7 linked regions of the Homo sapiens genome follow. The protein of the gene in region 1 purifies or fractionates together with the protein of each later gene. This does not show direct contact. Each region holds a gene or a part of one and is shown on either strand. Other genes may lie near its edges.

What was found.
Region 2: the proteins of LDHD (region 1) and UBR7 purify together in Homo sapiens (affinity purification with mass spectrometry; one large-scale study listed by BioGRID and IntAct). This does not show direct contact.
Region 3: the proteins of LDHD (region 1) and CGAS purify together in Homo sapiens (affinity purification with mass spectrometry; one large-scale study listed by BioGRID and IntAct). This does not show direct contact.
Region 4: the proteins of LDHD (region 1) and MTCL2 purify together in Homo sapiens (affinity purification with mass spectrometry; one large-scale study listed by BioGRID and IntAct). This does not show direct contact.
Region 5: the proteins of LDHD (region 1) and CEP164 purify together in Homo sapiens (affinity purification with mass spectrometry; one large-scale study listed by BioGRID and IntAct). This does not show direct contact.
Region 6: the proteins of LDHD (region 1) and RACGAP1 purify together in Homo sapiens (affinity purification with mass spectrometry; one large-scale study listed by BioGRID and IntAct). This does not show direct contact.
Region 7: the proteins of LDHD (region 1) and NDUFAF5 purify together in Homo sapiens (affinity purification with mass spectrometry; one large-scale study listed by BioGRID and IntAct). This does not show direct contact.

Annotation. Positions count from the first base shown.
Region 1 is NC_000016.10:75,113,635-75,118,397, reverse strand, and holds the start of LDHD (probable D-lactate dehydrogenase, mitochondrial isoform 2 precursor), read left to right. Parts: upstream 1-1,617; 5' UTR 1,618-1,677; coding exon 1,678-1,749; intron 1,750-2,737; coding exon 2,738-2,850; intron 2,851-3,058; coding exon 3,059-3,200; intron 3,201-3,429; coding exon 3,430-3,571; intron 3,572-3,712; coding exon 3,713-3,872; intron 3,873-4,163; coding exon of another isoform or gene 4,164-4,232; coding exon 4,233-4,432; intron 4,433-4,527; coding exon 4,528-4,656; intron 4,657-4,735; coding exon 4,736-4,763. UniProt on the Homo sapiens protein: Involved in D-lactate, but not L-lactate catabolic process.
Region 2 is NC_000014.9:93,226,437-93,229,841, forward strand, and holds the end of UBR7 (putative E3 ubiquitin-protein ligase UBR7), read left to right. Parts: intron 1-506; coding exon 507-599; 3' UTR 600-2,779; downstream 2,780-3,405. UniProt on the Homo sapiens protein: E3 ubiquitin-protein ligase which is a component of the N-end rule pathway. Recognizes and binds to proteins bearing specific N-terminal residues that are destabilizing according to the N-end rule, leading to their ubiquitination and subsequent degradation.
Region 3 is NC_000006.12:73,442,151-73,446,325, forward strand, and holds part of CGAS (cyclic GMP-AMP synthase), read right to left. Parts: intron 3,598-4,175; coding exon 3,378-3,597; intron 1-3,377. UniProt on the Homo sapiens protein: Nucleotidyltransferase that catalyzes the formation of cyclic GMP-AMP (2',3'-cGAMP) from ATP and GTP and plays a key role in innate immunity.
Region 4 is NC_000020.11:36,776,665-36,780,635, reverse strand, and holds the end of MTCL2 (microtubule cross-linking factor 2), read left to right. Parts: 3' UTR 1-2,804; coding exon of another isoform or gene 2,805-2,862; 3' UTR 2,863-3,189; downstream 3,190-3,971. UniProt on the Homo sapiens protein: Microtubule-associated factor that enables integration of the centrosomal and Golgi-associated microtubules on the Golgi membrane, supporting directional migration. Preferentially acts on the perinuclear microtubules accumulated around the Golgi.
Region 5 is NC_000011.10:117,410,293-117,413,924, reverse strand, and holds the end of CEP164 (centrosomal protein of 164 kDa), read right to left. Parts: intron 3,098-3,632; coding exon 3,031-3,097; intron 2,628-3,030; coding exon of another isoform or gene 2,603-2,627; exon of another isoform or gene 2,131-2,602; coding exon 2,008-2,130; intron 1,854-2,007; coding exon 1,757-1,853; 3' UTR 659-1,756; downstream 1-658. UniProt on the Homo sapiens protein: Plays a role in microtubule organization and/or maintenance for the formation of primary cilia (PC), a microtubule-based structure that protrudes from the surface of epithelial cells. Plays a critical role in G2/M checkpoint and nuclear divisions.
Region 6 is NC_000012.12:50,015,138-50,019,312, reverse strand, and holds part of RACGAP1 (rac GTPase-activating protein 1), read left to right. Parts: intron 1-723; exon of another isoform or gene 724-761; coding exon of another isoform or gene 762-797; intron 798-2,593; coding exon of another isoform or gene 2,594-2,597; coding exon 2,598-2,682; intron 2,683-4,175.
Region 7 is NC_000020.11:13,798,107-13,802,281, forward strand, and holds part of NDUFAF5 (arginine-hydroxylase NDUFAF5, mitochondrial), read left to right. Parts: intron 1-354; coding exon 355-394; intron 395-3,379; coding exon 3,380-3,577; intron 3,578-3,711; coding exon of another isoform or gene 3,712-3,738; exon of another isoform or gene 3,739-3,767; intron 3,768-4,175. UniProt on the Homo sapiens protein: Arginine hydroxylase that mediates hydroxylation of 'Arg-111' of NDUFS7 and is involved in the assembly of mitochondrial NADH:ubiquinone oxidoreductase complex (complex I, MT-ND1) at early stages. May also have methyltransferase activity.

The sequences.
Region 1 (4,763 bases):
GTGAAACCCTGTCTCTATTAAAAATACAAAAATTAGCTGGGCATGGTGGCACTCCTGTAATCCCAGCTACTTGGGAGGCTGAGGCATGAGAACAGCTTGAACCCAGGAGATGGAGGTTGTAGTGAGCTGAGATCACGCCACTGCCTGAGCAACAGAGTGAGACTCCATCTCAAAAAAAAAAAAAAATTTCTGATTTTCAATTGGTTGAAAGAAGTTATTATCCAAAGACTTGGAATCTTGGTATACAACAACAAAATTTTTTTTAAATAAAAAATTTTAAAAAAGACAACCTGGAATCAATAGAAATAAGCATCTGGGTTAAGATAAGGAGTTGTGGAGACCAAGGTTCTTTTTTTTTGAGACAGAGTCTCGCTCTGTCGCCAGGCTGGAGTGCCGTGGTGCGATCTCAGCTCACTGCAACCTCCACCTCCTGGGTTCAAGCGATTCTCCTGCCTCAGCCTCCCAAGTAGCTGAGACTACAGGCGTGTACCACCATGCCCAGCTAATTTTTGTATTTTTAGTAGAAACGGGGTTTCACCATGTTGGCCAAGAGGGTCTCTATCTCTTGACCTCGTGATCCTCCCACTTTGGCCTCCCAAAGTGCTGGCATTACAGATGTGAGCCGCTGCACCCGGCCCAAGGTTCTTATTATGTAACATAGATGGTAAATGTCTAAGGCGTTAAAAGGTGCCAGACTCTTAGTTAAATCTCCCTTAGATCAGGATAAAACCTGGAAAGAGGCTGGACGCGGTGGCTCATGCCTGTAATCCCAGCACTTTGGGAGGCCAAGGCAGGTGGATCACGAGGTCAGGAGTTCAAGACCAGCCTGGCCAAGATGGTGAAACCCTGTCTCTACTAAAAATAGAAAAATTATCTGGGCACAGTGGCAGGCACCTGTAATCCCAGCTACTTGGGAGGCTGAGGCAGGAGAATCGCTTGAACCCAGTGGGTGGAGGTTGCAGCACGCTACTGCACTCCAGCCTGGGCCACAGAGTGACTCTGTCTCAAAACAAAACAAAACAAAACAAAAAACCTGGAAAGGGGAGGGGATTCTCTACAGATTCTAGATTTTCCCCACAAAAGACAGCTTTTTGGAGCTATTTAAAAAAAAAATCAGAGGAATATATTTTGGGGGTAAAATACATTGATTTCTTTCAGGGCCTGCTATCTGTCAGGTGATGCTAGAGTCAGGTTGGAATTTGGTATCTTATTGCTACAAAGAGTCTGTTTTGTGTCTTAAGATCAGAATGCCTTAAGGTCTCTGTTTTAATGTTAATGCTGGTCAGTTGTGTCTGAATTCTAAAGGAAGGAGGGGGATAATGAGGCTTGTCCTAAACCTCTTCCCATCACAGCCTGAATTAATTTTTCAGGTTTATTTTGGAATGCCCTGGGCTGAGAGGGAGGTCCATTCAGTCGGTTGGGAGGCTTAGAATTTTATTTTTGCCTTACAGTTTCCCAAAACGTCCAGTGAACCTCGCCTCTCCTTTAGAAGTGTCGTCCCTGGAGCCCACGAAAATGTCTGCAAGATCTGCAAGGGCCACCTTAAAGCCCGTGCCACCTTAAGCAGGCCCCACCCCTGGCCTAGCCAATGGGCTGACAGCAGCAGTAGCTGCTGCCACAGTAGCTGACTGGTCACCCTGCCACCCAGTGCTCACACCCTCTGGCCAGTGCCTGGCTATGGCCCGACTGCTCAGGTCTGCAACCTGGGAGCTGTTCCCCTGGAGGGGCTACTGCTCCCAGAAGGCAAAGGTACCGGGAGAGAAGAGAAGTCCTCTGGAGGGATGAGGTGGGGAGCGGGGAGCAGGGGGTTCTGATCCCAAGTTTCCTGGGCTCTGTGACGCCCCAGCACCAAGTGACCTGACCTTGGGCAAAAGGGCACTGGGCTTACCCTGTGGCAACTGTGGGTGGGTGTAGAGTGAGATCAGCTGAGTCCCCACTGCTACCATGAGTGGGGCTGGGGGAGTCAAATGGATGCCCCTGGAATAAAACACACCTGTGGAAGAAGGCCCTGAAGGAAAGGGCCTGGGTTCCAGGCCAGGCTCTGTCCTTAACTTGGCCTCCATTTCTCATCTGTAAAATGGGAAGAAACACATCCCCCGCCCCGCCGCGCCCCGCCCCCCACGAAGGGCCCAGAAGCCCCAGGCAACGTAGAGTGGGGAGGGGGCAGTGGAAGCTTTTCCTCCCCCTAATTCCCTTATCAAGCTCTGAGTTCCCTGTGGCTGGGGTGGTGCTTGGTTGGCCCTGGAGAAAGGAGGAAGTGAGGGATCTTTTCGGTTGCTCAGGCTGGGCTGGCTATTGAAGGAACCCTGCTGATAGCCTTTTTGGAGAGTGAATTCTGGTTTTTTATTTGGATGGCTGGGCGCTGTGGCTCACGCCTGTAACCCCAGCACTTTGGGAGGCCGAGGCAGGTGGATCGCTTGAGCCCAGGAGTTTGAAACCATCCTGGGCAACATAGTAAGACCCTGTTTTTATTAAAAAAGAAAACATTAAAAAAATTCTGGTGGCGTTTTTTTCTGAGGGGAAACTTTGACCCCCAATGGCTCTGTTTGGAAAAGAGGCATTTCTGGATAGTGGGTTTGTTTAAAGTGGGCCCACCTGGCAAGGATGTTGTCAGCGGGGCGGGCGCAGGGGAGGCTCACTCCAGCCTCCAGCCCCCAGCCCTCCCCCCGACACTGGGGCAGGGCTGTGGCCCCATGTGTCTTTCGGGGGACCCTGGCAGTGTGTTTCTTCCCTGCAGGGAGAGCTCTGCAGGGACTTCGTAGAGGCTCTGAAGGCCGTGGTGGGCGGCTCCCACGTGTCCACTGCCGCGGTGGTCCGAGAGCAGCACGGGCGCGATGAGTCGGTGCACAGGTATGGGAGGGTTCGCGGGCCCCTCCCCTGTCTTCTGGATTCAACCCCAGCTGAGAGAGAGGGTGCTGGGTTGCCTTCCTCCTCACTCATCTGTTTTGGGGTGCTCTGGCATGTTCTCTGCCCCTCGCTTGCTGTAGCCTCAGGCCCTGCAACACCTCGGGACCAGAGGGTGTCACGCCCCGCTAAATCGCTGAGGGTCTGGTTCTAGGTGCGAACCTCCTGATGCTGTGGTGTGGCCCCAGAACGTGGAGCAGGTCAGCCGGCTGGCAGCCCTGTGCTATCGCCAAGGTGTGCCCATCATCCCATTCGGCACCGGCACCGGGCTTGAGGGTGGCGTCTGTGCTGTGCAGGTACAGTGGGGCTCCCTCGCCCGGCCCGAGGATGGTCCCAGCACACCTTGGCACACCTGTGGCTGCCTCCCCCGCCACACACGGCACCTTGGGTCTGCTCCCGCCCGTGGGCTGCCTGCCTCTGGGGGTCTGGTCTGGCTGCTGGGGGGACACCCGCGGGGTGTGGTCCGGGGACGTGGCCAGGTCAGAGACCCAGGTCTGCAGTGGTCTTAGCACCTGCCCCAACCAGGGCGGCGTCTGCGTTAACCTGACGCATATGGACCGAATCCTGGAGCTGAACCAGGAGGACTTCTCTGTGGTGGTGGAGCCAGGTGTCACCCGCAAAGCCCTCAACGCCCACCTGCGGGACAGCGGCCTCTGGTTTCCCGTGGGTAGGACTCGCGAACCTTTCCTGGGACCCTGAGGGCACCGTGGGAGCAGGGCTGTGTCTGGGGTTCAGGGGACCTTCCTCCCCCAGCCCGAGGGAAAGGACCTCCGGTCCCTGAGGCTGCCTTCTGTACGCCGCCCTCCAGACCCAGGCGCGGACGCCTCTCTCTGTGGCATGGCGGCCACCGGGGCGTCGGGGACCAACGCGGTCCGCTACGGCACCATGCGGGACAACGTGCTCAACCTGGAGGTGGTGCTGCCCGACGGGCGGCTGCTGCACACGGCGGGCCGAGGCCGGCATTTCCGGTGAGCGCCCTCTGCGGGGGGCCCGGGCTCTGGCCCTGGGCACTGCTGGCGGGCTGCCCTGCAGAGACCGGGCTGTGAAAAGCACCTCCTGGCGGCCCCCTGGTTTGGCAGGCTAGGCTTCCTCAGGCTCTGAAGCCCTGTCAGCTGGGCCAAAGTGGATGGGACCAGGGTTTGCTCTCCCTGCCTGAGGCCGACTGGCTTTGTGGAGCAGAAAGCACTGGGCCAGGGAAACTGGGCCCGAGGGAGGCCAGCCCAGACCTCAGTGCCTGGGGTCGGTGTCTTGGGTTCCAGCTTCGGCTTCTGGCCAGAAATCCCTCATCACACAGCCTGGTACTCACCTTGTGTGTCCCTGGGACGTAGGAAGAGTGCAGCCGGCTACAACCTCACGGGGCTCTTCGTGGGCTCCGAGGGGACGCTGGGCCTCATCACAGCCACCACCCTGCGCCTGCACCCTGCCCCTGAGGCCACAGTGGCCGCCACGTGTGCGTTCCCCAGTGTCCAGGCTGCTGTGGACAGCACTGTACACATCCTCCAGGCTGCAGTGCCCGTAGCCCGCATTGGTGAGCTGAGGATGGGGGCAGTCAGGGTGGGCTCCCTGGAAGAGGCCCCCTGGGAAGGCCAGGCCTCACCTGGCCTGCCATCTCCCTGGATCCAGAGTTCCTGGATGAAGTCATGATGGATGCCTGCAACAGGTACAGCAAGCTGAATTGCTTAGTGGCGCCCACACTCTTCCTGGAGTTCCATGGCTCCCAGCAGGCACTGGAGGAGCAGCTGCAGCGCACAGGTATGCTGGGGTGGAGTGGGGCAGCAGGGTGGGCTGCCTCAGTGGCGGCCCGGTGTCAGCCCCCCTTCCCCAACTGCAGAGGAGATAGTCCAGCAGAACGGAGCCTC
Region 2 (3,405 bases), on another chromosome or scaffold:
AAGTTTGAGACCAGCATGGATAATATAGTGAGACCTCGTATCTACACAAAATTTAAAAATTAGCCAGGCGTAGGCTGGGCACGGTGGCTCACGCCTGTAATCCCAGCACTTTGGGAGGCCGAGGCAGGCGGATCATGAGGTCAGGAGATCGAGACCATCCTGGCTAACACGGTGAAACCCCGTCTCTACTAAAAATACAAAAAAAAATTAGCCGGGCTTGGTGGCGGGCGCCTGTAGTCCCAGCTACTCGGGAGGCTGAGGCAGGAGAATGGTGTTAACCCGGGAGGCAGAGCTTGCAGTGAGCCGAGATCGTGCCACTGCACTCCAGCCTGGGTGACAGAGCGACACTCCATCTCAAAAAAAAAAAAAAAAAAAAATAGAAAATGGAGATGTTATCATTAACATAATTCTTAACAGTATCATTTGACTTGTTTGTGAATGCTATGACCTCGGATTGCGATTCTGTTACTTAGTTCTCTTTCATAATCTTTGCTTTTCAAAAACAGGTTGTTAAGAGAGAGGACATTCAGCAGTTCTTTGAAGAGTTTCAGTCAAAAAAGAGAAGAAGAGTGGATGGGATGCAGTATTACTGCAGCTAGAGTGGAGTATGAAGCTTTCTCATTCAAGCCAATGAAAATGCGCTTCCCATTCTTGGAATAAAAGAGGTGTGGTTCACATTTGGCCCCCTTTCCGTCCTCCTCTGTTTGGAGAGGCCTCGCGCTCCCTTCATTCTCTTTAGCTGCAGTAGCCACCGTGTGGATGCTGACTTCACAGCCAGCGTCCTCTGTGACTCAGCTGATGCAGCTCATTCCACAGACTTCTCCAGTGTACTCCTACTCCAGTGCACCCAGGGTTATTTGCATAGTTTTTAAGTTTGATTTTGTTTTGAGAAAGCAAATTGGTGTCTTGTTTAATGATCTGTTATTTCACTCCCAGATGTGTGTGTTTTGCCACAGAGCTGTTGCCTTCCAGAACCTCCTCCGCAGGCATCACGGAAGGCTCTCTTCCCGTCACCTAGAACCTCTACAGGTCCCCTCGCCCCTATGATCGTGGTGCCTTGGGTCAAAGCTTCCTCAAGCCTGGTCTGCTCCTTCTTTCACGTCCCTGTTTTCTGAGGTTTGGTCATAGCTTAGAAAGGATCTTGGGGCTTGTTTTCTCTAGGCCCAACCTCCAGAGTAGCCAGGACTGATGGTTTTCTGGTCTGGATGTCTGTCACAGGCGGAGAGATTAACAGATGACAGGGTTGAGGAAGCAAGCCTTTGTTATGAATTTTACTAATACAGTTCAAGTGAAATTTTCGTTCATGATTCTATTGGCACTAGAATTAGAATTTCAGTACTGTAGTGCTCACAGGGCTTCCTGGAGAACATTTGCCCGTATACTAGTCCCTTCTCTGCTGCCTAGAAAACAGACCGGGTCTCACCCCTGTGAAATCTTGGTGGTTTACGAAGTCCTCTGGATTTCTTGATATTATCAGGGATATTCATAAGCATATATCAAAAATGGACCTATTTTGATATTCTGTTATGAAAATGTTATTAGAACCCCAATAAATTATTATTTTTCCCCCTTGAATCTGCTAAAGAAAACAGATCCTGACTTAGCTTACTTGAAATAAGCAGGGCAGGGAGCCCTGTTTTGGAAGAGACAGACTGTGGAAGAGATTACAAACAAGGCCCGAGGCTGCACGAATGATGAGTTTTGTGTATATAATGTTAATGTCCACCGCCACTTCCCTAACGACTATGAGATCTTTTTTTTGAAGATCCTCATGGAAGGTTGTACAGAGCCCCACATTTGAGGGGAAGTCCTTTCAGTTGATATGAGATCTCTTTAACACCCCTCAGTCTATGTAGGAAATGCCTTGTGATACATAGAGAACCCTCAGCTTCTCTCTGCCTCTGGAGGACCAAGGTCTTTCCTGACAGTCGGAGACACACCTTGATGTATGTTAATAAAAGCATTTCAGGCTGTGGGGCCACCATGTATATTAATACTCCTTATGTGTCCAGCATCTGTGTATTCATTCGAGTGCCCAATCCCTGGATGAGATGAACTAGGCCTTATAAAAAGTCAAAGCCTCAAAGAAATGGCACAACCATGTTCTTCGGCACTCAGGCTCCTAATTGCAGATCCTCACGAAGGGTGGTATGTGGAGCTGGAAGGTCTTGTGGCCACAGGACATGCTGGTGAGCCCTGAGCTGGCCTTGTGCAGAGGGCTCCGTTCAAAGGCTCGGGGTGTCTTTGAGGTTGTTTATCAAGCTGGGGAACTCTTCCAAGTCTGACAATGTTTCGAACCCTTTTTGCAAGGTTGCACTATTAGTATACCATCATGTCCGGAAAACTTTTAATCTTCTCAAATATCTGATGTAACTACCAGAAAGTCCCTTACTTCCTATGACCAATCAGGACCAAGTCTTGGAGGTGATGTGTTACATTACGTGCAGCACAATAGTACCGATCAGTTAACTCAGCGCTGAAGGGCTTGTTTTATGAAAGGTACTATTCCTTCTTTCACATTAACTGGAAACCTCTTTTTTTACCTGTTGTTCACAACTAGTTTTCTTATTGACTGTATTGGACTGTCTCTTCTTGTAGAGACTGATTTTGGCCAACATATTAATGCATGTTTTATGCAAAACACAAATATGATATTAGTTGCTTTTAAGGAGTTCTGGCATTGTATGTGCATTTTTGTAGAAATTGTTACTGGACTTATAATTACATACTTAACTCTGATCAGGTTTCTGTAAAATTTAAATAAAACCAATACAAAATAGTTGCTTTTCAGATTGTTTTTAGTATATTTAAGTCTACACAGCCTCCCTCTGCAGGTTTTAAGAAAATGCAGGCAGGGCGCGGTGGCTCACGCCTGTAATCCCAGCACTTTGAGAGGCCGAGGCAGGCAGATCACGAGGTCAGGAGATCGAGACCATCCTGGCTAACATGGTGAAACCCCATCTCTAATAAAAATACAAAGAATTAGCTGGGTGTGGTGGCGGGCGACTGTAGTCCCAGCTACTCGGGAGGCTGAGGCAGGAGAATGGCGTGAACCCGGGAGGCAGAGCTTGCAGTGAGCCGAGATCACGCCACTGCCCTCCAGCCTGGGCGACAGAGCGAGACTGTCTCAAAAAAAAAAAAAAAAGAAAAAATGCATAGAGCCGGGCATGGAGGTTCACGCCTGTAGTCCCAGCTACTTGGGAGGCTGATGCAGGAGGATTGCTTGAGCCCAGGAGTTGGAGGCTATAGAGTGCCGTGGTTGCACCTGTGAATAGCCAGCCACTCACTGCACTCCAGCCTGGGCAACAGAGTGAGACCTCATCCTTCAAAAGAAACGTAATGGTGTATTCTAACAGCTCTTCCTGCCCTGAGGTCCTGCCCTCAAAGCAGAGGGACTGGTTCACG
Region 3 (4,175 bases), on another chromosome or scaffold:
GTGTGAGCCACTGTGCCTGGCCCTCCATCTACCTTTCAAAGGCCACCTCTGCCCATAGTCTCTGGATCCCTTCCTTCTCAACTTCTCAAGTACCATGCTCTTCAAGTATTTCCTCTCCTACATCAGCCATCTCTCCCTCCCTGCTAGATTATTCTGAAATTCATACAAAGGGTTATAGGGTATACCTCTCCTTTCACCCCACATCTTCCTCCTCTCCATACTCACCCATCTTTCTGCTTCCTTCCAGCCCAAACTTTTTTTTTTTTTTGAGACAGGGTCCCGTTCTGTCACCCAGGCTGGAGTGCAGTAGCGTGAACATGGCTCACTGCAGCCTCAACCTCCTAGGTTCAAGCAATCCTCTTGCCTCAGCATCGTATGTAGCTGGGACCACAGGCACATGCCACCACTCCTGGCTAATTAAAAAAATGTTTTTTTCTTTTTTCTTTCTTTTTTTTTTTTTTTTTTTCTGAGACAGTCTTGCTCTGTCGCTCAGGCTGGAGTGCAGTGGCGCAATCTCAGCTCACTGCAACCTCTGTCTCCCAGGCTCAAGCAATTCTTTTGCCTCAACTTCCTGAGTAGCTATGATTATAGGTGTCTGCCACCACGCCTGGCTAATTTTTGTATTTTTAGTACAGACGGGGTTTCATCATCTTGGCCAGGCTGGTCTTGAACTCCTGACCTTGTGATCCGCCCACCTTGGCCTCCCAAAGTGCTGGGATTACAGGCATGAGCCACCATACCTGGCCTAAAATTTTTTTTTGTAGAGATGGACTCTCACTTTGTTGCCCAGGCTGGTCTTGAACTCCTGGGCTCAAGCAATCCTTCTGCCTTGGCCTCCCAAAGTGCTGAGACACCACAGTTAGCCCAGACAGAACTTTCTAGAGTGGCCTACACATGTTATCTCCACTGCAACCCTGCCTTTTCACTCTGTGTCCATCACCCCACTGACATTTCTCTTGTCAACCCCACAAGACCAAAGAACAAATCCATTGGATTTCTGGATGTCAGTAGCATTCCAAACACTGACCGCTCCTTCTACAAAACACTCATAGTCTCCTTTTGTTCATTCTCTTCTTCCCAAACTCTTTTTTTTTTTTTTTTTTTTCTGAGACAGGGTCTCACTCTGTCGCCCAGGCTGGAGTTCAGTGGCGCGGTCTCAGCTCACTGCAACCTCCGCCTTCTGGGTTCAAGAAATTCTCTGCCTCAGCCTCCCAAGTAGCTGGGATTACAGGCACCCGCCACCACGCCCGGCTAGTTTTTTGTATTTTTAGTCAAGACGGGGTTTCACCATCTTGGCCAGGCTGGTCTTGAACTCCTGACCTCGTGATCCACCCGCCTCGGCCTCCCAAAGTGTTGGGATTACAGGCGTGAGCCACGGCGCCTGGCTCTTCCCAAACTCTAATGGAATTCTCTTCTTACCACTCTACTTAACATTGCAACTTCCCCCCCACCTCCATCTCCCACATTCCTGATCCCTCTCACTTTGCTATACTTCTTCACAACAGCACTTACTACTTTCCAGTATACAAGATAATCATTTTTTCCATTTGTTATTAATTGTACGTCTGTGCTTGCAAGATAAAGCTCTTAATCTAATAGCGTAATAACATACAACACAAATTGCAGTGAGTGCTCTGAAGGGAATAAACTGGGAAAAGTGATAGCAATTAGGGTGGAATGGGGTGGTGGAGCCAAGCCCTGAGGCAGAAAAAAAGAGCTTGGAAAGATCTAGGAACAAAAAGAGACTCTTTCGGAAAAGATGAAGTTATATGAAATGAAGCTGAAGAGGCAGCCAGGGACCAGATTCTGTACTGACTTGTAGACCCTGAAAAGGACTTTAGATTTCATTTTATTTTTGAGACGGAGTCTTGCTCTGTCGCCCAGGCTGGAGTGCAGTGGCACGATCTCGGCTCACTGCAACCTCCACCTCTCGGGTTCAAGCGATTCTCCTGCCTCAGCCTCCCGAGTAGCTGGGATTACAGGCATCCACCACCACGCCTGGCTAATTTTTGTATTTTTAGTATAGATGGGGTTTCACCATCTTAGCCAGGCTGGTCTTGAACTCCTGACCTCGTGATATACCTACCTCAGCTTCCCAAAGTGCTGGGATTACAGGTGTGAGCCACTGCGCCTGGCCAGATTTTAATTTAATTTAATTTAATTTTATTTTATTTTGAGATGGAGTTTCGCTCTTGTCACTCAGGCTGGAGTGCAATGCCCCGATCTCGGCTTACTGCAACCTCTGCCTCCCAGGTTGAAGCAATTCTCCTGCCTCAGCCTCCCAAGTAGCTGGGATTACAGACATGTGCCACCACACCCGGCTAATTTTTGTATTTTTAGTAGAGATGGGGTTTCTCCATGTTGGCCAGGCTGGTCTCAAACTCCTGAGCTCAGGTGATCCACGCACCTCAGCCTCCCAAAGTGCTGGGATTACAGGTGTGAGCCACTGCGCCTGGCACCAGATTTTATTATCTGATCATTGAGAAGCCAGGTTTTCATCAGAGAGTAATGACTGGCTTTGTATTTTAAAACATTTACTCTGGCTTCTAAGGACAGATATTATAAGAAGGCAAATAGGGAGATTAGAAAGGAAAATGATGTAATAGTTCAGGTAAAAGATGGTGGCAGCTTAGGTGGGGTGGGAGTAGGGTGCTGGGATTGAAGCAGCAGACAGGTCCAAGCTGTAGCAGCACTTGCATCTGGATTAAGCGTAGGGGGTAACAGAGAGGATTAAATTAAGATGGTTCCCAGGTTTCTGGATGGTGCGTCTGGGTGGATTGATTGTGCCATTTTCTGAGATGGGAAGGACTGAGGCAAAACATAGTTTGGTATATGAATTAAGTTATGTTTATTCGCTTTGGATATGTTTGGTTATAGATTCCTGTGGTACATCAACATCAAAGTGGATATGTTAAGGACGTAGCTGGATATAGGTTTGGAGTGCAAAGGATATATTTGGGCTGCAAGTAAACATTTGGGAGTCATCATCATATAGGTGGCATTGGGAATGGATGAAATACCTAGGCAGAGAGTGTAGATTCATTTATCCATCAATTTAATAAATATTCATTGATTATTTCATATAATTTAATCATTTAATTTAATCAATATTCATTGATTATCTAATGTGTAGGTGTTCTAGTTATTTAGGATTCATTAGAGAACAAATAGATAAAGACCTCTACCCTTCTGTACTTTATAATCTTGTAATCATATTATAAGTAATTGCCAATGTACACTCCTCTACTGATGTTTCTTGACCTCTCTACTGCACTTTTTCTTACTGCAGAGAGGTCAAGAAACATGAGAATGGGAGTGTACATTGGCAATTACTAGGTATAATTAAACCTTTAAGAATCAAAAGGCAAAAGTCTTACCTTTAATGTCGTTAATTTCTTCCTTAATGATTTTCCTAAACTTTGACAGCATCTTAGAAGCTGATAATATTTCACCTTCTAAAAACTGACTCAGAGGATTTTCTTTCGGATTTCTTTTAAATTTCACAAAGTAATATGCACGAGTGTTGGAATATTCTTCTAGTTGAATTCTGGGGACTTCCAGTTTAAACATGACATCAAATTCATTAGGTGCAGAAATCTAAGAAACAGTAAAAATAGTACTGAAATATTTGCTTATGAATATTTTCCAAGTGACTGGAACTTTTTAAAAAATTTCCACTTAAAACTTTACTTTAAAAAGCAAGATTCATAATGTCTATATATACCCTCTGGGAGTGGGACTAGTGGAGCTGGCAGGAGGTGGAAGAGTATTACCAGTTTCATTTTGTAGGTTCTACACTCAATTAATTTTTTTTACCATGACCTAGTATTATTTTTATAACTAAAAATGATTTTAGGCCAAGTGCAGTGGCTCACACCTATAATTAAATTTTGTGGGGCCAGGTGCAGTGGCTCATGCCTGTAATCCCAGCACTTTGGGAGGCCAAGGCGGGCGATTCACCTGAGGTCAGGTGTTCGAGACCAGCCTGGTCCAACATGGTGAAACCCCGTCTCTACTAAAAATACAAAAATTAGCCGGGCATAGTGGCATGCGCCTGTAATCCCAGCTACTCAGGAGGCTGAAGCAGGAGAATTGCTTGAACCTAGAAGGCAGATGTTGCAGTGAGCCAAAATAGTGTCACTGTACTCCAGCCTGGGCAACAGAGCAAGACTCCA
Region 4 (3,971 bases), on another chromosome or scaffold:
AAGGTTCTACACAAATGGAAAGTGATCTGATCACACTCAGTGTCCCCAGCCCAGCCTTTCAGTGCCCTGGCCCTGGGGTGGGGGACAATACTCTCCTCACCCCCTTCACTAGTCTTCATGAATAGCAAGGAGGCCATAACATAATTTGGTCTAAACCCCTTCCTTTTTAAAAGAATGATGGCAAAATGTGCATAACATTAAATTTACCATTTTAAAGATTTCTAAGTGTCTCGAAGTACATTTGCAATGTGTAACTGCCACCTCCAGAACTTTTTCATCATCCTAAACTGAAACTCTGTACCCACTAAACAGTAACTCCCCACTCCCCCTGTCCCCAGTCCCTGGTAACCTCTATTCTACTTTTTTTTTTTCTCTGTGGATTGGCCTATTCTAGGTATCTCTTTTAAGTAGAATCATATAGTATTTGTCCTTTTGTGTCCAGCCCCCTCATTTTTTGAGATGAGGAATCAGGCCCAGAGAAGGCAGTGGCTCACCCAAGGTCACATCGCAAACCAGAGGCAGAGCCAAGACCAGAACCCAGGTTTCCTGACTCCTAACAGGTCTTGCATCCCCAGTAGTGAATGAGACACTGCTTTGACTTTCTGTAATCTTGGTTTAGCCCCTTCCTTTCTCTGGGCTCAGTCTGCTTCCCACCACTCACCCATTCTTTCTTTATCATCTCCCTCCAAAGCCTCTTGTCCTCCTGCCTCCTCTTCTCCTTGGCTGGTTCCTGCCAGCAAATGGAGTGGCCCTGGTCCATGCCAGGTTTTCCTCTTCTGGGTCCGGAGCTCACTATAGTATTCAGCCCTCAGTCCTCCCAGGATGTTCTTCCCAGCACTGCTGCCTCGTGCGGATTTTCCCGTAACCTCAGTAACTGGCTTCTTGTCCCCCTGCTTCCTACCAGGGAAGCCTTCCTGTCCGCGTCTGTGGTTTCCCAACTCTGATATTTGCTCTCAAATGTGGTGGTGTCCTGGTTCTGTGTTTATTTATTTTGTGTTTTCTCACACACACAAAAAAAAGCCTCTTCCTCCAATGCATCAGGAGGCACCAGCCCTGCCAGCCCTTCTCACTGGGCTCACCCTGCCCCAGCAACCCCCCGGTGCCACCCTTAAGCCACACTGTCTTCTCTGTAAGCAGCCTGCCAGCAGCAGCCCCAGCACTTTGCAATGGGCGTGTGTGTGGTGGTGGGTGGGGGGGGCTTGGATCCCTCCTTTTTCCTCCCCTGCCCTGCCCAGGCCCAGATGGCCTTGACTGTAAAGCAGGTGCTGCCTGACAGGTTCTTCTCTCCCTGTCTCTGGTCATTGATCCATCTCTTTGTCCATTCAGTATCCAACCATCCTCTCCATTCTCCTCTGGACCTCACCACTCTCAGAGCTGCTTGTCCTGGCAGAATCTACAGTTCACCCCAACTCTATGCCTTACCCCTCCCAACCCAACAGCATTTGCAGTTTGCAAAATATACAGACCCAAGTCCTGAGGGGACTGAGGACATGATGCTGGGCCCAAGTCTCCTGCTCAGGGCTTCTCTCCAATGCCAGCCCTGCCACTCCTTCCTCACCCTCCTTGGAGCCTCCTCTGCTGCTTGTCTATCCCAACGGCCCTGCTCCCCTCCCTTCCTGCCCTTCACCAGCTTTCTGGACACCATGCCCTGAGGAAGGGACCTTTGGTTTTCTCTAAACATCTTTGAAGGGCTGAGGCAGTCAGGGCTGGCTGCCTTGTCACTCTTTATTTGGAAGCCACTCAAACCATTCCCAAGAAGAGGGACCTCAGCTGGCAATCTGGAAACCTGGCCCAGGTCTGGGCAGATGTCTTCACTTCTCCTACCTTCCCAGTCTTGTGATCCTGTGATGAGCACCAGGATGGCCCTGTGGTCCCTAGAGCACCCCTCATGCTGTAGGGTCCTGCAGCCCCATCCTTTCTCTACTGGGCCCTGGTATCCTGGCTCCTCTCTCAGCTCTGCCACTGATCTCTGTGCCTTAGTTTACTTCTCTGCACGGGGGACTCACCCCAAGACCATTTCCAGCAGCTTCCCAGGTGATGTGGTGCCCCAAGGCTGGGCTTTGCCAGCTGTGGCCCAGCTCCTTAGTGCTGCCCAGGAGACACCAGGCTGCTCAGAATGAGGTGACTGCGGGCACCATTCTCAGCCAGTGGTTCTTGTATTGCATTCCAGCAGCAGGAATATCACCTGGGAACTTGATAGAAGTGCAGATTAGCAGCCCCACCCAAGACCCACTGAATTAGAGCTTGTGGAGTGGGGCCCTACAAGCTGGGGTTTTAAGGAGCCCTCCAAATGATTCTGACGCATAAGAATATGCCAACTGCTGATCTGGGCTAGCCATTAGTAGAGCCTGGGGAGGGACTGGGACTGGCTAGGCCAAGAACAGGTGGAAAACACCAGCCTTATCTGGACTCCTGAGATTGGGAACCACCACCAACAAAAACCAACCCTATAGTCGCTCCTCTTGGAAGAGGAAGAGAAGTTGAAGGGCCTGGAGAAAGCACACATTGTTTGTTTCCCTGCTCCTGCTCACCTCTCTCACTTGTCTTGGTTTTACAAAAGGCTGTGTGGATGGTGCCAGCCAGGGAGGGGGTGGGAGTCCTGGGGAGGCAGGAGGCAGAAGACCCTGACTGTTTCTCCCTTGGGAACCTCACCATAGGCCAGATAGCGCCTCTTCAAACTGAAAGAAATCTTAACTCCACAAAGAAAGCATCCTAAATCCCCAGTTCCTCCTCCTCCCAACCCCAGGGATACCTTGTAGACAGTGCCAAAAAACAGCTCCAACCCCCAGCAGCTGGGAAGAGAGCCAGAAGCTGCCCTTCCTCCTCATCCTGGCCCCTCCCCAGCCCCCGCCAATACTGTGAACCCCCTTCCCACTCAGCCTGGTTTCCTGGTGAGGGTCCTGCAGTCATGGGCCCTGGGGGACCCCCAGGGCAAGGCCCATGGGAGGGAAGGGACCAAGGGCATCCTTGGGCCAACTGTCCACCTCTCTTGTCCACTATTCTCTCCTTTCCACTTCTGTCTTCAAAAGGCTCCTTCCTAGGATGGATCGGGTGCTAGGACAACTGCAGTCCAATCCACCAGCTCTCCCTGCCCCTGTGTCTTATTTCAGACATGAGAATAACTGTACAGTGTAAACTTATAAAGCGTTTTTAATGGTTGTAGATTGGAAATAAAGTATGTCATATGAACAGCTGCTGTGGACTTGGCCTCCTCTCTGATTTTTCTAATGAGGTGGGTGGGGGCCCCAGCGGATCTGAAACCTAACTTTTCCCCACTCCCAGCTGCCTGGGAAGTGGGGAGCCCAGGGAGGCCACAGCCAGCTGGCTGGTTTGGAGTCACTTGGGAGGGGCCACCAGGTGTTCTGGCTGCTGCCTGCTGATACTTCAGCGTCTCCCACACAGTGTGATATGACCACTGAGAAACAAATGCAGTCTTCAAAAAGAAGAAAAATAGAATTGAACTTTTCTACAAAAGACTTTAACAATTTTATGAAAAAAAAAAAGACACTTTTAGGTGTGTGTCAATTGTCTATTGAAGCGTAATTAATTATTCCGAAACATTTATTATACCCCACAGATGCTATGGGTCAGGAATTTGGGAGCTGGGCAGTTCTGATTCAAGGTCTCAGGAGGTTGCAGTCAGTTGTCAGTCAGGCTACAGTCATTTGAATGCCTGATGAGCTGGAAGACCCATTTGCAAAGTAGCTACTTATGCCTGGCAAGTCATTGCTAGCTGTTTGCAGGAGGCCTCAGTTCCTCACCATGTGGACCTCTGTAGGCTGTTTGCGTGCCTTCACAACATGGCGTCTGGCTTCCTCCACAGCATGTGATCTATGAGAGAGCAGGGAGGAAGTCACAATGTCTTTTATAGCTAAGCCTTGAAACTCACAGACTAGGCCAGGCGCGGTGGCTCATGCCTGTAATCCCAGCACTTTGGGAGGCCGAGGCGGGCAGATCACCTGAGGTCGGGA
Region 5 (3,632 bases), on another chromosome or scaffold:
CCAATCAGCCTTTGGGAAATGGCACCATGGGTCTCCGGCTGGTAGGAGGGAGAGCTGTGAAGGAGCAAAGGGAGAGATGGCGAATTCAGCACTTCCCAAGGACTGGTAGTAGGGAAGACGGCGCTCTGGGGGTGCAGGGATGGAGTGTGGGGACACTGCACATGTAGGGAGCTCAGCTACTTTACTGGGGACCCCAGGCATGTAAAGGTTCTCTAAGCCTTGGTTTCCTCGTCCATAAAAACAGAGGAGAAAATATCTACATCAATATCTACATTGTTGCGATGATTAAATCAGATACTACATAGGGCAGTGTTCTATGAATATTCATTTTTCCTTCCTCCCTTCTCAGGAAGGAGGCAAAGGCCTCCCAAAAGAAGGAGACACATTTACATGACTGCCTTGTAGAAAATGGACCTGCAGAGATTTAAATGATGCAGAAAATACCCAGGATTATCACTAGAGTTGGTGCACCACATAAGCTATTCCCAAAGCACACATGATGAAACGGAGTTTTCTATGTAGTGGGCTGATGCTTAAAAGGCATCTGAGGAGATCAACAGCCAGTTGGATCTTAGTTTCTTATTCCATGACCACGAAATGAGTTGGAGGACGGAAGGAGTTAATTTGTGTGTCAGAGAAGCAAGGGCAACCCCACAGCTTGCAAAAAAAAAAACAAAAATAAGTGCATTTTATTTAAACAACGGAACAAACATCAGAGAGCATCCCCTGCAAAGCCCCCACCCCAGAGCCTGCTGATGGAAGCGGGGCTGCAGGACGCTCTGCCACAACGGCAGCATCTCCAACTGCACAAAGACCCCTTGCTGCCAGGGCCGGGCACCGGCCTAGCTCCTTGCCTGCCTGCCTGAGGCAGCCGTGGAATCAGGGCAGGGGTGGCACAGGTAGAAAAGACAGATGGAAACAATGCCCATGAATATACCCAAAGTGTCCCAGGAGGATAAAAGCCATCATGAGGACCAGAAGCCAACCCAGTCTTTTTTTGGCCTCCTGGAGAAGTTGTTTTTGAGACCTGAGACTCCAGCTGAAATGGCTCCCTGAGGAGCCCCAGGGAGCAGGAGGGGTGTTCTGAGGACAGCCCCTGAGGAAAACACAGTGCCTGCAGAGGGACAGCCCCCAGCACCCTCCGGCAGGGCTCTGGACAGCTAAGCCCAGTCCTGAGAGGGTCAAAAAGAGAGATGGAATGCTCAAGAAAAGAGGCATTTAAAAATTAAGAGAAGAAAGACAAAAAAGAAAGGGTCTGATCTGAGGCTGAGGTATTGGAGATAGATGTGGGCCCAGAGAAATCGGGTCCCAGGGTACACACATGCTGGGGGTCTTTGTCCTGATGAATTAAGAACCATACACACAACCTCCTTGGGAGCCCCGAGCAGTGCGCTGCAGGGCCAAGGAAACAACCAGCTCCAAAGGGACTCCCTGAGCCTCCGAAGGCAGCTCCTCTAACGCCTCCCTTCCTCCCAAAGGGCTCCCGGCCCTGATACCCCGCAGCCACCGCACGCCATCAGCTTGCCATGTCAATGACAAGAGCTCGTACGAGTCCACACATTTTAGCCTGAGATAGGTTATATAGTCACAGAATGTGTGGCTTTACTGTTCCACTCAACCCCCTGGTCCCTGGTGGCTCCTGCAAGTCAAAGGGGGAAGGAGGGTGCTTTCTCAGATGGAAGAAGGCAGGCAGCTCCTCAGGCACTTGGTCTGGGTGGAGGAGAGGCTGGGCTGCCCCAAGCCCCTGCTCAGGGCCTCAGAAGCGATACACCTTCACTCTGTTGTGCTCATCAAGGCCCAGCTGCAGGAGGCTCAAAGTAGCTTTTGGCTTGGGTGTTGACGAGAAGAGAGGTCTGGCCACAAGGTGAAGGAAAACTGCAGTCGCTGGGCATAGCCAGGCAGGGGCCATGAAAGGGTCAAAGGCTGAACAGGATCCTCCTCAGCCCCTCAGGGCACAAGCACAGTCCCCACAGCCCAGCCCAGTTTGGGAACCAGGTAAAAGGATACAACCTGGGGTCATTCTTGACACGTTCCAGCCACCTCCGGTTGGCCTCAATTATGCCCTGAAAGGTGGTGCTGCCCGCCTCAGGGACTTGCGAATGGGAGTGCTGTAGGAGCCGGAGCTGCTCACTGGGAAGGAAGAGGAGAGCATGGCGAGGGGAGAGAGGAGGCGCGGAAGTGACAGAGGATGCACAGAGGCCATCACATCTGTCACCTCCTCCCTCTTTCTCTCAGCTACCAGAGCAGCTTCTCCGAGGTCCCTAGCAATTCAAAGCTTCAAAACATCTGCCCCTCCAGAACAGTTCCCAAACGGGAAAGTGGTGGAGGCCCTCTGCCCCCTTGCTGGGTGCTACTGATACAAGGCTCTGGGCTCCCACATCCGCCTGCTCCCGCCAATCTCATCAGCAAAGCGCTCCCCTCTGTCAACTCAATCCTTGGCCAGCATCAGCTCTCAAGTTGGCCAAAGGGTTAGTGGGGGGTACTCACTGTTAGCTGCCTAAGGGAGGGAGAGGGGAAAACATTTGGCAAGGAATGAGATGAATGGAAAATTAATAACAGGTTTAAATAATTGCCCGTCTGTCTCCTCCACAGGGTGTCCCTCTCACTCCAGATGTTGCTCAGCAGGACTGGGGGAATAAGGGAGCCACAGGAAGCAAACAAGAGCTCAAGGGCAAAGACAAAGGCCAGACTCCGGGGCTGGAGGGGCTAGAGGGAGGGGCGGGGGCAGGGTCCCACCAGGGGCTGACTCCTCCCCACAGGGGCCAGAGGGCAGCTTCCTCAGGGGGTTGGCAGGGTAAGCCCAGCCCTTCCCCACTGGGACCTTGGCGGTGTGAACTTGACTTTCCCCTGGTCATGGAGGGGCGCCTCAGACCCAGGCAAGCGGGGACAGCTCTGTGGACTAGAGGCCTGCCTGATTTCTTGGGGTAAGACCAGGAGGTCTGCTCCCCTCAGAGGTCCACCTGCCCAGGGAGGCACAGTGAGCAGCTCGACTATGACGTTCCACCCCAACCAGCCCCCAGGGAGGCTCACCTGGCAGACATGTAACCCAGCCTGCTCTCCAGCGGGGTGGGGCTGTTGCTGAGCAGCGGGATGCCAGCTGGAAGAGCATGGGGACAGGACTCAGAAATGGGCAGTGGTCACCACCCTGCCCACCAGCACCTCTTGCCTCCCCAGAATAAACAATAAAAGGAAAAGCTTCAGTGGCTGGAGGCCAGAGACAGGTGAGAGACAGGAATGGTCCTATTTATTTTATTTTTAAAACTTAATCTACTTTTCAATTTGGGTTAGGGCAAAAAGAAGATATTTTGTTTCCCCTCAAATGCCTTGTTTTATGGCTTTTCATAATCCTCAGCAGGGCTGAGACCTGGGGAGGCCACCTGGCTCAGAAGCAAGAATTAGCCACACAGCCAAGAGGTTCCAAGCAGAATCCTGGAGTCACAGAGACATGGGGTCACAACTGAGTTTGTTACTCACTCACTGGGTACCCTGGAGCATACTACTTAAACTCTCTGAAACTCAGTTTCCTCATCTGTAAAATGGGGATAAATAATTACTACCTCAGAGAATTAAGAACTAAATGAAAAAATATATATAAACTGCTTGGCCCATCATGTATTGCACAAGATGGTAGC
Region 6 (4,175 bases), on another chromosome or scaffold:
ATATGGTAAAGTTTAATTCAAGTGCAAAGAGTTTGTATCTGAGTGGCAACTGCCTGAAGCAGTAGGGGAAGGACTGGAGGAAGGGAGTGCAATTGAAGTGAGTGGTGACAACCTGCAAGTGATAAGGGGGTGGGTATGGTAGATACATGAGAGAAGAGTACACAAGGTTTAGTGATTATGCTGTGGGAAGGGGAGGAACCAGAGGTGATTCTGAAGTTTGGAACTGAGCGACTGAGAGAATGATAAAAATAGGGAAATCAAAATTGGAAGTCAGTAGGGTATGGGATAGGGTAGGTCAGTGAGTAGCGTAGTTGATGGACATGAACAGGAAGAGTAGAACAGTGTCAGGAGGCTGAGGCCGGAGAATCACTTGAACCTGGGAAGCAGAGGTTGCAGTCAGCTGAGGTGGCGCCAGTGGACTCTGGCCTGGGGGACAGAGCAAGATTCTGTCTCAAAAAATTAAAAAAAAAAAAATGGACAAGAGAACAGGTTATATTGTAATTTAAGACTTAAAACCCCCCCTAAAAAAGCTTTTTTTTAAACAACCAGTTTTCAACATCCTAGCACCATGAAATTTTCCTTTTTGAATTCTTGGACAGATAGAAGTTTTGCCGTGGTATTGAGCTGTCTTATAGTCTCACGATATATAAGTGAATGCCGAGATGATAGAAAGTAATACCTTATATTAAAACTACTGATTAGAGTCTTCCATTTTTACCTCAGGAGAGCCAAAGGAAATCAACATTTGAATTGACTACCCAATGTCCTGCCCCTGTTTCTGTCCTGTAGCACTTAGGGTATGTTGCCTATTTCATTATATGTTAAATCCATGGCATCTCCATGAATTCCACAGCTCTTCCTGCCGGTTTTAATGCTATCCTTTTAGTTTTGTTCTTAGTTTAGAGAAAGATCTTTGTAATAAATTTGTTGGTCTGGTTGCTTAGCAGCTTGCTGTGATTATGTAGCTTGGAACAGATACTTGCCGTTTGAAAATCTTGGTTTCCGGCCCTGATTCAGGTATATGTTGCATCCAGGCTTGGAACTGAGAACTTTTTTTCTATTATAGCAATTATCATATGAGTATAAATGTATAATTCTGCAGCATTTAATATATAAAATATCTTCATGTTTATATATTCTTTTTTTTTTTTTTTTGAGACAGAGTCTTACTCTGGCACCCAGACTGGAGTGCAGTGGCACCATCTTAGCTTACTACAACCTCTGCCTCCCAGGTTCAAGCGATCCTCCTGCCTCAGCCTCCCAAGTAGCTGGAATTACAGGCACACATAACTGTGCCCAGCTAATTTTTGTGTTTTTAGAAGAGACGGGGTTTTGCCATGTTGGCTCAGGCTAGTCTCGAACTCCTGACCTCAAGTGATCCGCCCGCCTGGGCCTCCCAAAGTGCTGGGATTACAGGCGTGAGCTGCCGTGCCCAGCCTATGTTCATATATTCTTTGTCCTTTGTGCTTTTTTATATATTTTTTCTTGCTCTCATAGCTTGTGGTGCAATCTTGTAAACATTGCAAAATCACTAACCCTTCATAAGAGTTCTTAAAATTTTATTTAGGAAATAAGGACCTGGACTAGAATGTTGAAGCATTGGTTAAGAGAAACACAAGAATCCTTTAATGGTATTTCTGAGGACATTAAATTTCTAATAAAATTTGACTTTTTATTTCATTTCCTTGATAGTTTTCATAACATCCAGTTAATGTCTTTCTTTCTTGACTGTTAAGTGAAGATCTTATTTCCTCAAAGTGTTCCCAGTTAAAGTCTATTTGGAATAGAACCGCCTGTAACGACACTGTTTTTTCTATAGTATCAGCAGGCCTTTGAGGGGAAATACAAAGTCTGAAATTCACTATACAGGACACAGTAGCAAATGATTTTTGCTTTGCCCTTCGAACTGTGAAGGTGCTGTATTGTCTCTCTGATGCCAGAATGTGGTACAACATAATCCTTTGCCTCTACTTAGTATAAATTTATTAGACGTAGTTCCTGCACGCAGCCCAGCAGAGAGCCCTGTATTACAGAAATAATTCTTGTGCTGCTGAGCTGGCGATTTTCCCACTTAATCACTCATGTGACGTCATCTGTGCTTTTGGTAGGAAATGTGCTGACCATGTCCTGCATTTTAAAAGGCAGTTGCAACAGGGGCATTAGCTAAAAATGAAATTAAAAATAGATATTTTAAGTTACATTGTAGGTCTTCAAAGCCCACAAGGAATAAACTGGCAAAATTATTATATTAATCAATAGGCTTGACTTGAAGAACCACATTTTCTTGTTGGTCAGTCACTTGCTAATGAACTGACATGCTCTTTCCTATTTGTTTTCTGCTCCAAGTGATTGGAGGGGCTGTTATATTCAAAGGTCTGAAATGGTTTTCTAATTTTCAGATGAGTCTTAAACATTCCAAGTTTGTTTTTATAATAAGAATCACACAAAACATCTGTTGTTAGCTTGAGATTCTTATAATGGTAGTTATAAATGGAAGAGTCCAGATGTTGGTCACTAATGGCTGGATTGCTATAGAATCTTTTGTTGTGGGCGAGAAGGCAGGACCCCTAATGTATATTTGATTTCTTGGCAGAAAGATGGATACTATGATGCTGAATGTGCGGAATCTGTTTGAGCAGCTTGTGCGCCGGGTGGAGATTCTCAGTGAAGGAAATGAAGTCCGTAAGTCATTCTGAGCTGGCCTGTCCAAAGGAAAAACAGATTTCAAATTTGGGATTTTTACAAAGCTGAAGTATTTTCCAATCTTAAAGTTGTTTTCCATTTGGGTTACCTAAAAAGAAAGCAGTGATCACTTACGTGGTCAAAGCCTAATGGGCACTCATTCTAAATGGTCACTAAAATTCTTTTCTATAGCTGCTCTTAATAGGTTTTAGCCAGGCTTTTTTATTATCTTTATTTATTTATTTTTTTGAGATGGAGTCTCTCTCTGTCACCCAGGCTGGAGTGCAGTGGCGACATCTCGGCTCACTGCAACCTCTGCTCCCCGGGTTCAAGCGATTCCTTGTCTCAGCCTCTCGAGTAGCAGGGATTACAGACACACGCCACCACGCCCGGCTAATTTTTTGTATTTTTAGTAGAGACGGGATTTTGCCATGTTGCACAGGCTATTCTTGAACTTCTGACCTCAGGTGATCCGCCCGCCTCGGCCTCCCAAAGTGCTGGGATTACAGGCGTGAGCCACCGTGCCCGGCTGCTTTTTTATTATCAAGATTCTTTTTCCACTGAATAGTTGGCACTATTTTCTGTGCCATGAACTGGGAAAAATTTACTAGGATGTTGCTTTTTTCTTTAGAGTAGTAGTTGTCTTTTTTTTATCCTGGATTTTCTTTGTGTTCTATAAAGCATTTTCAGTTGAAGTGGGAAAAATTCATAATTTCTTCTTTTTTCTTTTTTTTTAAGAATCTCATTCTGTCACCCAGGTTGCGCCACCATGCCCAGCTACTTTAAAAAAAATTTTTTTTTAAATTTTTTTAATTTTTTTTTTATTTTTGAGATGGAGTCTTGCACTGTCACCCAGGCTGGAGTGCAGTGGTGCGATCTCGGCTCACTGCAAGCTCCGCCTCCTGGGTTCACGCCATTCTCCTGCCTCAGCCTCCTGAGTAGCTGGGACTACAGGCGCCCGCCACCACGTCCGGCTAATTTTTTTGTATTTTCAGTAGAGACGGGGTTTCGCTGTGTTAGCCAGGATGGTCTCGATCTCCTGACCTCGTGATCTGCCCGCCTCGGCCTCCCAAAGTGCTGGGATTACAGGCGTGAGCCACTGCGCCTGGCCTTAAAAATTTTTTGTAGAGATAAGGTCTCCCTATTTTACCCAGGCTAGTGTCCAACTCCTGGCCTCAAGCAGTCCTCTCACTTCTGCCTCCCAAAGTGATGAGATTATAGGCATGAGCCACCAGGCCCAGTCCATAATTTCTTTTTGAAGGAGATACTAGGCATTTGCTTTCACCTACTTCATATATTTGATGCTAAATAATTAAGGATTGAGAGCCAGGTTTGGTGGTTTGCACCTGTATTCCCAGCTACTCAGGAGGCTGAGGCAGAAGAATCACTTGAGGCCAGGAGTTTGAGACCAGCTTGGGCAACATAGCAAGACTGTCTCTGAAAATATTAGCGGTCGGGCATAGTGGCTCATGCTTGTAATCTTAGCACTTTGC
Region 7 (4,175 bases), on another chromosome or scaffold:
TTACTACTTTTTGCAAATAAGGTCTCAGAATAGCACCGTTTAGATAAAATGCCTAAGTAGGAATGACTTTTACATAATTCAGTGATGAATAATTAGAAAATAATCATATCAGATTCTTTCAGTTACGCAAAGTGATATATTGACATGGGGAATTTTCTGGTGTGACACAAGGCAGGTTTTCCTCTAGGAATATTTATAATTTTAAAACCTGTATGAAAACGATCAGTGGATTTGGATATGCAGTTTTAAACTTCAAAATTAACACCTTTTTATGGGTTATCATTAACCTGGTGATAATTTTACTAATTAATTGTGCCAGTTAAGCTAAAACAAATCTGTATTCTCATATTTTAGTTTGCATTGGGTGAATGACCTTCCTAGAGCACTTGAGCAGGTAAGAAAACTTATGTTCATTCAACTATCTTGTGTTATTTTCTTTATTGTTAGAAATCTACAGATGTTTCTATTTTCACATACTATTTACTTGTAGGTCTGACAGTTGGGAAAGAAATCGGTGAAATCATCTGGTGCCATTTGGCATATTAGTAGTACATTGGGCAACTCTCCTTTCCCTGAGAATTTAAGAAATCTAATTGTAGAGATAAGTTTTAAATATTTATGAAAAGCTTAGGAACTGTGCAAAATAATATTGAAATCATAAGACATTCTCTATGTAGATTTCTTCTTACCCTTAGTTGCCCATAAACTTTTTGCAAGTAGGAACCTACTTATTTATATTTGTATTTTCTCCATGCCTTATACTCAGAGAGTGCTAGGTAAGTTTTTATCGATTGACACGTATCAATAGACAGGTGAGAGGCAGGTAAAAAGTATGTGTTCAAAGGAGAGAACAAGATCCCTGTGGCTTGACATGGCCTAGAAAAGCTTCAAGAGGAAAGTACTTGAGCAGGGCCTTAGAGGGTAGGTAAAGTTTGGATTGGGAAGGCATTCTAAGAAGGCAGAATCACAGGATAGGTGGAGAGGCACAAGAGCTTCATCAGCATTAAGGAACAAAAAGGAAACCTGTTTGGAGGACTAGTATAGTGCTGGGAAGTGAGGTGTGATGTATTGGGACAGTATTTAGGAGGATTTGAGTGTCAGGTTGAGGAATTTGGAGTTTATGCAATTCAGAGCCACTGGAGCATTTTGAAGAGGAAAATGACATCATTATAAAGCTGGTGGGCAAAATAATAATGGCCATATCTGAACACGTATGATTTTCCAGTTTCCCGTTACTGTGCTCTGTTTTATATTTGTGTTAAATAGCTCTGCGAGATGTATTTATTTTGCTGATTAGAAACTGATGCCTCGGCTGGGCGTGGTGGCTCATGCCTGTAATCCCAGTACTTTGGGAGGCTGAGGTGGTTGCATCACCTGAGGTTAGGAGTTCGAGACCAGCCTGGCCAACATGGTGAAACCCCGCCTCTACTAAAAATACAAAAATTAGCCAGGTGTGGTGGCAGGTGCTTGTAATCCCAGCTACTTGGGATGCTGAGGCAGGAGATTCTCTTGAACACGGGAGGCAGAGGTTGCAGTGAGCTGAGATCACGCCATTGCACTCCAGCCTAGACGACAGAGTGAGACTCTGTCTCAAAAAAAAAAAAAAGAAAGAAACTGATGCCTGGAGCAGTTCGTTAAATTGAAGGGAGACTGTTTCAGTGGTCCAAGAATGAGATAAACTAAACCTAGGTGGTAATGGTAGGAGTTAAAAGGAAGAGTATTTAGGACTCTACAAGGAAAGAATCAACAGTTTGGTGACTGATTAGATCTGAAGATCAAAGGGAGGAGGCAAAACTCACTTTGAAGTTTTTGAGTCTGGATTAGTAAAAGTAGGGGAAAGAATGTTAATGATCAGATAAAGGGAATAGAAAATGGCAATAGAAATATGGCAGTTGGAAAGGGGAATTGATTTGATAAATAGATGTTTTCCTTGTAGGGGTTGGAGGGAGCAGGGACGGTGAGTATGCTGAGAGACAAATGTCCAGGGAATAGGCAGTTGAAGATGACTTTGGACTTCTGAGAAGATGGCCAAGCTGAAGTTAGGGATTGGAAAGTGGTCATTGTGAAATCATGGAAGTTGATAAGCTGTCTGAGGGAGAGCGGGGAGCTGCAGAATTCTGAGAACTAAGTCTTAGGTATTTGGTTTAGTAGAGTTTGATGACAGGAGGAGGAAGCAACACTAAAGGTGAAGAAGGGAAGGAACCAAAGCTTTTACAAATTATTTACTTAATACTGCTTTTAATTGCTTCATGACATATTAAATATAAATTTAAGACAGTACTTTTATTAGAAGAGCCTACTGTGATTTGGATTCTGGTTTACTTCAGAATCTACCTTTTCCTGTAATGGTCCTCATTGCTGAGAATAGTCAATCAAACTAGTTACAGCTTGTAGTCTGAGAGTGAGCAAAATCTGTGATTCTGGAATTCTCTCTGGCCATTATTTTCCTTAAGTTACTAATTAGAAATTGGTTTTGTTTTAAAGCTGGAAAATAAATTGATTACTTCTCTTTAACGAAAGGTAATATGTTACTAGGTTAATGCTGTGAATCATAATGATTTCTCTGTAGCTTTTTCTGCATAATAAGGCACCCCAACTTGATGGCTTAAAACAACAACTATGTAGCCCATGATTTTGTGGGTTGGCAGTTGGGGCTGGATTTGGTTAGGAAATCTGGGTCTGGCTTGGCTCATCTGTGTGTCTGTGATCAGCTGCCAGATCGTCTGGGAGCTAGCTGGTTTGGAGGGCCTCGGTGCACACAGCTGGCTGATCTCTGCCCTACATCTCTCCTCCTCCTCTAGGCTAGCTCAGGCTTGTTCACACATCGTGGCTGGGCTGGGCTCCAAGAGAGCAGGTGGAAGCATGCAACACATTTGAGACCTAGACGTGGAACTGGCACACTGTCACTTCCACTGCATTCTTTTGGCCAAAGCGAGTCACAAGGCCAGCCAAGATTCAAGGGGAGGGGAAATAGACTCCCTATCTTGATGAAAGTTGTTAGAAAACGACGTTTCAGAGGCCATAGATGCAGGGAGGTTTGTGATTTTTGCAGCCTACCCCAATTAAATTTTTTTTTCTCTTTCAGCATTTTTCTGATTATAAAACTAAGTTGTATACCTATTAGAAAACTTGAAAACATACAACATATTTTTATAGGCATTAATATTAGTGAATGTATAGTTGTCTTTCCAAGTATATTATGCATCATGATTTTCTGACAGTTGGTTGCATTAGATGTTATTTGTTAAATTATGTGATTATTAATTTGGCAGAATAAAAGTGGTTGTCATAAAATGTTAATTTAGACACTATATATTTATTTTTTAACATTTATATATATAAAAATTTGAATCATTTTGTTTTCTTGTATTTATTACAGATTCATTATATTTTAAAACCAGATGGAGTGTTTATCGGTGCAATGTTTGGAGGCGACACACTCTATGAACTTCGGTGTTCCTTACAGTTAGCGGAAACGGAAAGGGAAGGAGGATTTTCTCCACACATTTCTCCTTTCACTGCTGTCAATGACCTGGGACATCTGCTTGGGAGAGCTGGCTTTAATACTCTGACTGTGGTAACTATCAAGTTCGATTAACCCATAACTTACACAGTTCAAAAAAGAACTTCTTATCATTTTAAAGATAGAAAACTGTATGTGTTCATGGTTTCATGGCACTCTTTCTCTCCCTTTTTTTTTCTCTTTTTAAGGGAAAAGCTCTGATTGACAATGTTTAGTTTGTATAACACATCTTAATTGACACAAGGTAGGAATGTATAATTTTTTACTGTTACCTTAAAAAGTAGCTCAAAAAATGTATCATAGTTAACAAGACAAATTTCTAAACATACAACTCCATTAGAATCTTCAAATCTAGTATTAGGTGTAAAAAGGGCCTTAGAGTATTCCAGATGATAGGAAGAAAAGGGGATAAGTAGGGGAACCTGTAATATTACCACCAATAACTACCCCCAAACAGTGCCATATGAAGCAGAAATGAGAGAATGTGTGTTCTCAAGGCCTAGGGTGAGATCAAGGCTAAAGAAGGTAGGACAGGGTGCTGTACTCCATTAGGGCTAGAGAAATCTCGAAAGAAGACCCATGGGCAATCAGTGAGTAATAAGCATGAAGTCAGCATGGTACGGTGACGGGGTAGGACAGTAGGACTTTGTTC